2 separate regions of the Homo sapiens genome follow, and region 2 is linked to region 1. Evidence: fine-mapped expression QTL. Tissue or cell type: minor salivary gland. Region 1 holds a variant in brackets; the other region holds the start of a gene. All regions are shown on one strand. Distances are from middle to middle.

Region 1 (2,844 bases):
GATTGTGGAACCTGCTAGACATTTTCTGAAGCCTGGTACTGGGTTCATCATGGTGTATAGTTATCTCAAGGTACTGATTCTCAAATGAGGGTGAATTTGCCCCCCAGCAGGCACTTGGCAGTGTCTGGAGATATTTTTGGTTGTCACAATGGGAGCGGGGGTGCCAATGGCATCCATCTAGTCAGTAGAGGGCAGGAAAGCTGGTAACATCCCACAGTGCCCAGAACAGCCGCATGCAACAGAGAATGATCCTGCCCCAAATGTCAGTAGTGCTGAGGTTAAGAAACCTATTTCTTGGTTTGGAAGTGGGGGCAGGGTCTCACTGCATTGCCCAGATTGGAGTGCAGTGGCACAATCATAACCCACTGCAGCCTTGACCTCCTGGGCTCAAGCAATTCTCCAACCTCAGCCTCCTGAGTAGCTGGAACCATGGGTGTGCACCACCACACCTGGCTAACTTTTTATTTTAATTTCTTGTAGAGATGGGATCTTGCTATGTTGCCCAGGCTGGTCTTGAACTCCTAGGCTCAAGCAATCCTGCTGCCTTGGTCTCCCAAAGTGCTGGGATTATAGGCATTAACCACAACCTGTGGCCAAAAAGCGGTTGTAATGTTGAAGCAGAGTAAATGTTCCCCAGCTCAATACATGGTATATCTGGTTATAAATAAGAGGCGCACACGAACATGTTTCCACAATGAGTGAACCAAAAAGATTTTATGTTGCAACAGTTTGTTATTTGTAGGCAATGAATGGCTTTGTATGTACTTCCCTTACCGCTAAGCAAATATGTCAGCAGGACAAAGTCCTACAAGTGGAATCGCCAAATAAGAAAGTTCATGCATTAAAAAAGAATTTTTTTTTGAGACAGGATCTTGCACTGTCACCCAGGCTAGAGTGCAGTGGTGTGATCACAGCTCACTGCAGCCTCAACCTCCCAGGCTCAAACAGTTCTCCCACCTCAGCCTCCAGGGTAGCTGGGACTACAGATGTGCACCACTATGCCTGGCTAATTTTTGTATTTTTTGTAGAGATGGGGTCTCATCATATTGCCCAGGCTGGTTTCAAACTCCTGGGGTGAAGTGATCCTCTCCCCTTGGCCTCCCAAAGTGCTGGGATTATAGGTGTGGGCCCCTGTGTCCAGTGCACTATCTGATTTTGCCAAATTACCCGTCACTGAATCCATACACATGTCTTTTCTTTCTTTTCCTTTTTTTTTTTTGAGTCGGAGTTTTGCTCTTGTCGCCCAGGCCGGATTCCGATGGCACAATCTTGGCTCATGGCAACCTCCACCTCCTGGGTTCAAGCAAATCTCCTGC[C/G]TCAGCCTCCCAAGTAGCTGGGATTACAGGTGCATGCCATCATGCCCAGCTAATTTTCTATTTTTGGTAGAGATGGGGTTTCACCATCTTGGCCAGACTTGTCATGAACTCCTGACCCTCAGGTGATCCACCCTCCTCGGCCTCCCAAAGTGCTGGGATTATGGGCATAAGCCACCGCGCCCAGCCTGAAGCCATACCCATTTCTATGCCCCTGGCAGTGAATGTAGAAGAGCCGTGGGGTGATTCTGTAATTTTAAAAATGTGCTCTCCCTGTTTATATCTTCTCATCAAAATCTGGGAATAAATAAAAGGTGGGCACGCTTTATGATAGTTTGTGCCCATCGTATTCTCAGCCTTCAGGGATCCATCCAGGATCTGCCCACGGGAGATCTTTTAAGTGTAATGAAGTTAACGCTACTGGGAAGTGGCTTCCCCTTTCTCGAGAAAAGGCATATTTGGCTCCTGCTTCCTGACACTAAGAGCCCCCAAATGACTTGCCTGTCAGAGTTTGCATGTAGAAAAATCTACCTCAGCAAATCTTCCTCTGAGTGGTTGTTCAGCTTTGTTTTTTCAATTTCTATTCTTTTTTTTTTTTTTTTTTTTTTTTTAATTTTAAGATAGTCTCACTCTGTCACCCAGGCTGCAGTGCAGTGGCACAATCTCAGCTCACTGCAGTCTCCGCCTCCCGGGTTCAAGCGATTGTCATGCCTCAGCCTCCTGAGAAGCTGGAACTACAGGCGTGTGCCACCATACTTGGCTAAGTTTTGTATTTCTTTTAGTAGAGATGGGGTTTCACCATGTTGGCCAGGCTGGTCTCGAACTCCTGACCTCAGGTGATAGGCCCGCTTTGGCCTCCCAGAGTGCTGAGATTACATGTGTGAGCCACTGCACCCAGCCTATTTTTTAAGTTTCTGATTCAAGGACCCCTTTGAGGGTCTGATGAAAGTGATAAGCCATCTCCCCAGAAGAACGCAGCTGTAATTTGCCTGGAATCTCCAAGGTTCCAGAAGCTTTCCTGGACCCCTGAAGAAGTGGCTGTGTGGATGGAGTGAGGCTCATGCCACCAGGCACTCTGCCTTGCCTCGCCTTTCTCTGTTTGAGGTGCACTGCATGAGGGGGGCCTGTGGTTGGACTTCCAGGCTCAGAAAACAATGTAGAAAGAGTTCCATGTGGCCAGGGACGCCCCAATTCCAAGTCTGTCTTCCCTACCTTCTAGCAGAGCAACTGGTCAGTTATTCAGAATCTGTTTTTGTTTTTGTTGTTTTTGACACAGAGTCTCGCTGTGTCACCCAGGCTGGAGTGCACTGGCATGATCTCAGCTCACTGCAACCTCCACCTCCTGGGTTCAAGCGATTCTCCTGTCTCAGCCTCCCATGTAACTGGGATTACAGGCATGCACTACCACAACTGGCTACTTTTTGTATTTTTTGTAGAGACAGGGTTTTGCCATGTTGGCCAGGCTGGTCTCGAACTCCCAACCTCAGGTGATCTGCCCACCTCGGCCTCCCAAAGTGCCGGGATTATAAGC
Region 2 (2,662 bases), 520 kb before region 1:
AATCCCAGCTACTGGGGAGGCTGAGGCACGAGAATCGCTTGAACACGGGAGGCAAAGGCTGTAGTGAGCTGAGATTGTGCCACTTCTCTCCAGACTGCGCGACAGAACAATTTAAAAAAAAAGAGGAAGACTGGATCCTGGACTGTGGTCTCTGGAAGGGTATAAGAAGCATTTCCACATGGACTGTGGTGAATTGACCATTGGAGACTCAGTCTGCCTTGCCCTCCCTAGCTGCTTTCTTGGTACAGCAGGCTTGACTTGGGAAATCACTCTGCTCAGAATCCAAGTTCCTCAACTGAAAAGTAGGTAAAAAGCGATCTATTTGCAGAGCTGTGTGTGACTCAAAAGCCAGGGAACACCTTGCACACTGCGAGGTTTTCATTCTGAAAGCGATTCTTGCAATCTTGCCCGCAGCGCCATTTCATGCGGCTCTCTCTCCTCTGTGCCTCAGTTTCCCTGTGTGTAAAATGTGGGAGAGTCTACTGCCTTCCGTGGAGGCTGTGAAATTATGTCTTTAAACTAATTGGTCCAGACGTGGGGCCAAAGTATCGGGATTACAGGTGAGCCACTGCACCGGGCCTCAGCCTTGTCAGGGGGCCGGAGGTTGCTTAACCCCCTGGATCCCAGCTTCCTCATCTGTAAAACGGGCTGATGCCTATACAGCTCTCAGAACCACACCTGGTTCAGAAGTCCCCAAATGGTAGTCCTCAAATTCTGGCCAAGGCCAAAGCAGGTGCTTCACTTCTTCCGTGCACACCCTGCAAGTGGGCTCCGGGTGGCAGGTGCAGCTACGCCCTCTGCCGGTCGGGGCGGGAGACAAACTCAGGGGAGTGGGGAGAACCACAGCGACTCAGGGAGCTATTTCAGAGGGGGCAAGTGGAAGGCGCTGGGGCTCCAGGAGAGTCTGTAAGCGAACAGATGAGGAAATGACCAAAGAGTTAATATGTTAGTGCAGCGCTTGGAACGCAGAGGGAAGGACCATTTGCCCTGTGGTTGGTTGGTTCCTTCCCTCTGAATTTAGGTCCATTTGGTTTGTCCCGGAGTGCTTGTCAACCCGTCAGAGGGCCTGGGAACGGAGCATCCTGGGAAAGATAGTTCCCAGACGGGCTTCCCGCGCTGCTTCCCGGCGCCTTCGGCGGCGAGAGGACTCCATTTCCCGACGTGCCCCGGGACCGGGAGGCGGAGGGCCGCCGTGGCGTCGGTCCCCGGGCCGAGCCGGGGGTGGGGGCTCGAGGCGCCTCCGCGGCCGTGGACGAGCGTCCGTGCGGCCTGGTCCGGGCCATGTCCGCGTGAGGACCCCGCCGCTGTCGCCGCTCCCGTTCCGGCCCTGGCCCCTCTGCCCGGCAGCGCCGCGCACCATGGGCTCCATTCTCAGCCGCCGCATCGCGGGGGTGGAGGACATCGACATCCAGGCGAACTCGGCCTATCGCTACCCTCCGAAGTCCGGTGAGCGCCCGGCCCCAGGCGCGGACTGCTAGGCACGCGCTGGAACGCGGACCCGGCGGGCGCGGGGGCGGGGACTCGGGGCGGGGCGCCCTGCTCGGCCCCCTCCGGGCCTCGTTGCTACCCCGAGCCTTCGCGCGGCCCCACGGCCCCGATCCCTAGGCGTGGCTGGGGGCCCCGGAGGAACCTGCCCGAGCCGTACCTGGCGCTGCTACTGCCCGGCTTGGGTGACCTTGGGGCAGTCCCTTCGCCCCGGGCACCTCAGCTCCGTCCTTGCAACAGGGGGGAGCTCCTGGGGGAAACCCCGAGGGCGGGGCGGGGTGCTGAGCGCGGGTCCCGGCGCATCGCTTCTGCCTAGAAAACTCTCATTGTCATCAGATTGACCTCACCGCGGGGGCCGGCTTTCGCTTTCTTTAGTGGCTTGGTGTGAAGGCCGAGCCAGTGGTTTGGGCAATTTCCCTCCCATCAGGACGGAGGCTCTTGGTGTGTGGGTTGGAGGAGTGGGGCTGGGCCCAAGGAGACGATTATAGTTGATCGGGAGGGGCCAGGGTCCTTGCTGAGAGGACCCAGCCGATACTCGGGCCTCTGTGTTATGGCTGAGGGACGTAAGACACCAAGGAGGAAGTGACTGCCAAGATCTCAGCTGGATGGAAGCATAGTTGGGACCGGGACCAGCTGTGGGGCTCCCACGTAGCTTTGTTCCCAGCTCTCTTTCTGCCTCTATTGATGAGTTATGTGTTGACTGGGAGCATCTAGCTCCAAGTCTCACCCTCCATCTCCTCGTGGGGTTCTTTGTGGTGGAAAGGAGAGAAGGAAGAGGAGAGAGAACTTGGGCATCATGGGGACATCTAGATTGGGTCCTCAGATCCTGGCGTCTCATCTGATCTGATGTCTCAGTCTCCTGGGTGTCTCCGGACACCCACAGGCCAGATTTCTCTGAGTGTGGGCCAGGTCCACAAGTGGGGGAGGACTGCTAGACATGCCAGGGCCTGCCTGGGACCCCTTGGGGCCTGGGAACCTGCATTTTCAACCCATTCCCCATGTGAGTTTTACGTCCACTCAGGTTTGAAAAACTGCTCTGCCCAGGTTTTGTAAGGTGTGACTAGGTGAGGGCCTGGGGCCACTGGGATGAAGTGAGGGGAACCAGCACAGTTTGGGGGCACTCTGAAGGGGATGGACTCAGAGCTAGGCAGAACGCACTGTTGCCTGCCTGCTGGGG

The links. PIP is the estimated chance that this variant, and not a neighbour inherited with it, causes the effect.
Region 2: MGRN1 starts here. The variant in region 1 is fine-mapped to the expression of MGRN1 in minor salivary gland (GTEx, PIP 0.96).

Annotation. Positions count from the first base shown.
Region 1 is chr16:5,143,785-5,146,628 of GRCh38, forward strand. It overlaps the pseudogene ENPP7P14. Among named protein-coding and RNA genes, the nearest start is that of EEF2KMT, 47 kb to the left of the region's middle. The variant C/G (reference allele first, on the strand shown) is at 1,317.
Region 2 is chr16:4,623,603-4,626,264 of GRCh38, forward strand. MGRN1 (mahogunin ring finger 1) reads left to right here and starts at 1,224. Exons shown (of 17, transcript NM_015246.4): 1 at 1,224-1,446. The coding sequence starts at 1,359. RefSeq lists enhancers at 886-995, 953-1,483, 1,006-1,300, 1,484-2,013, 2,544-2,662 and silencers at 1,066-1,245, 1,486-1,715.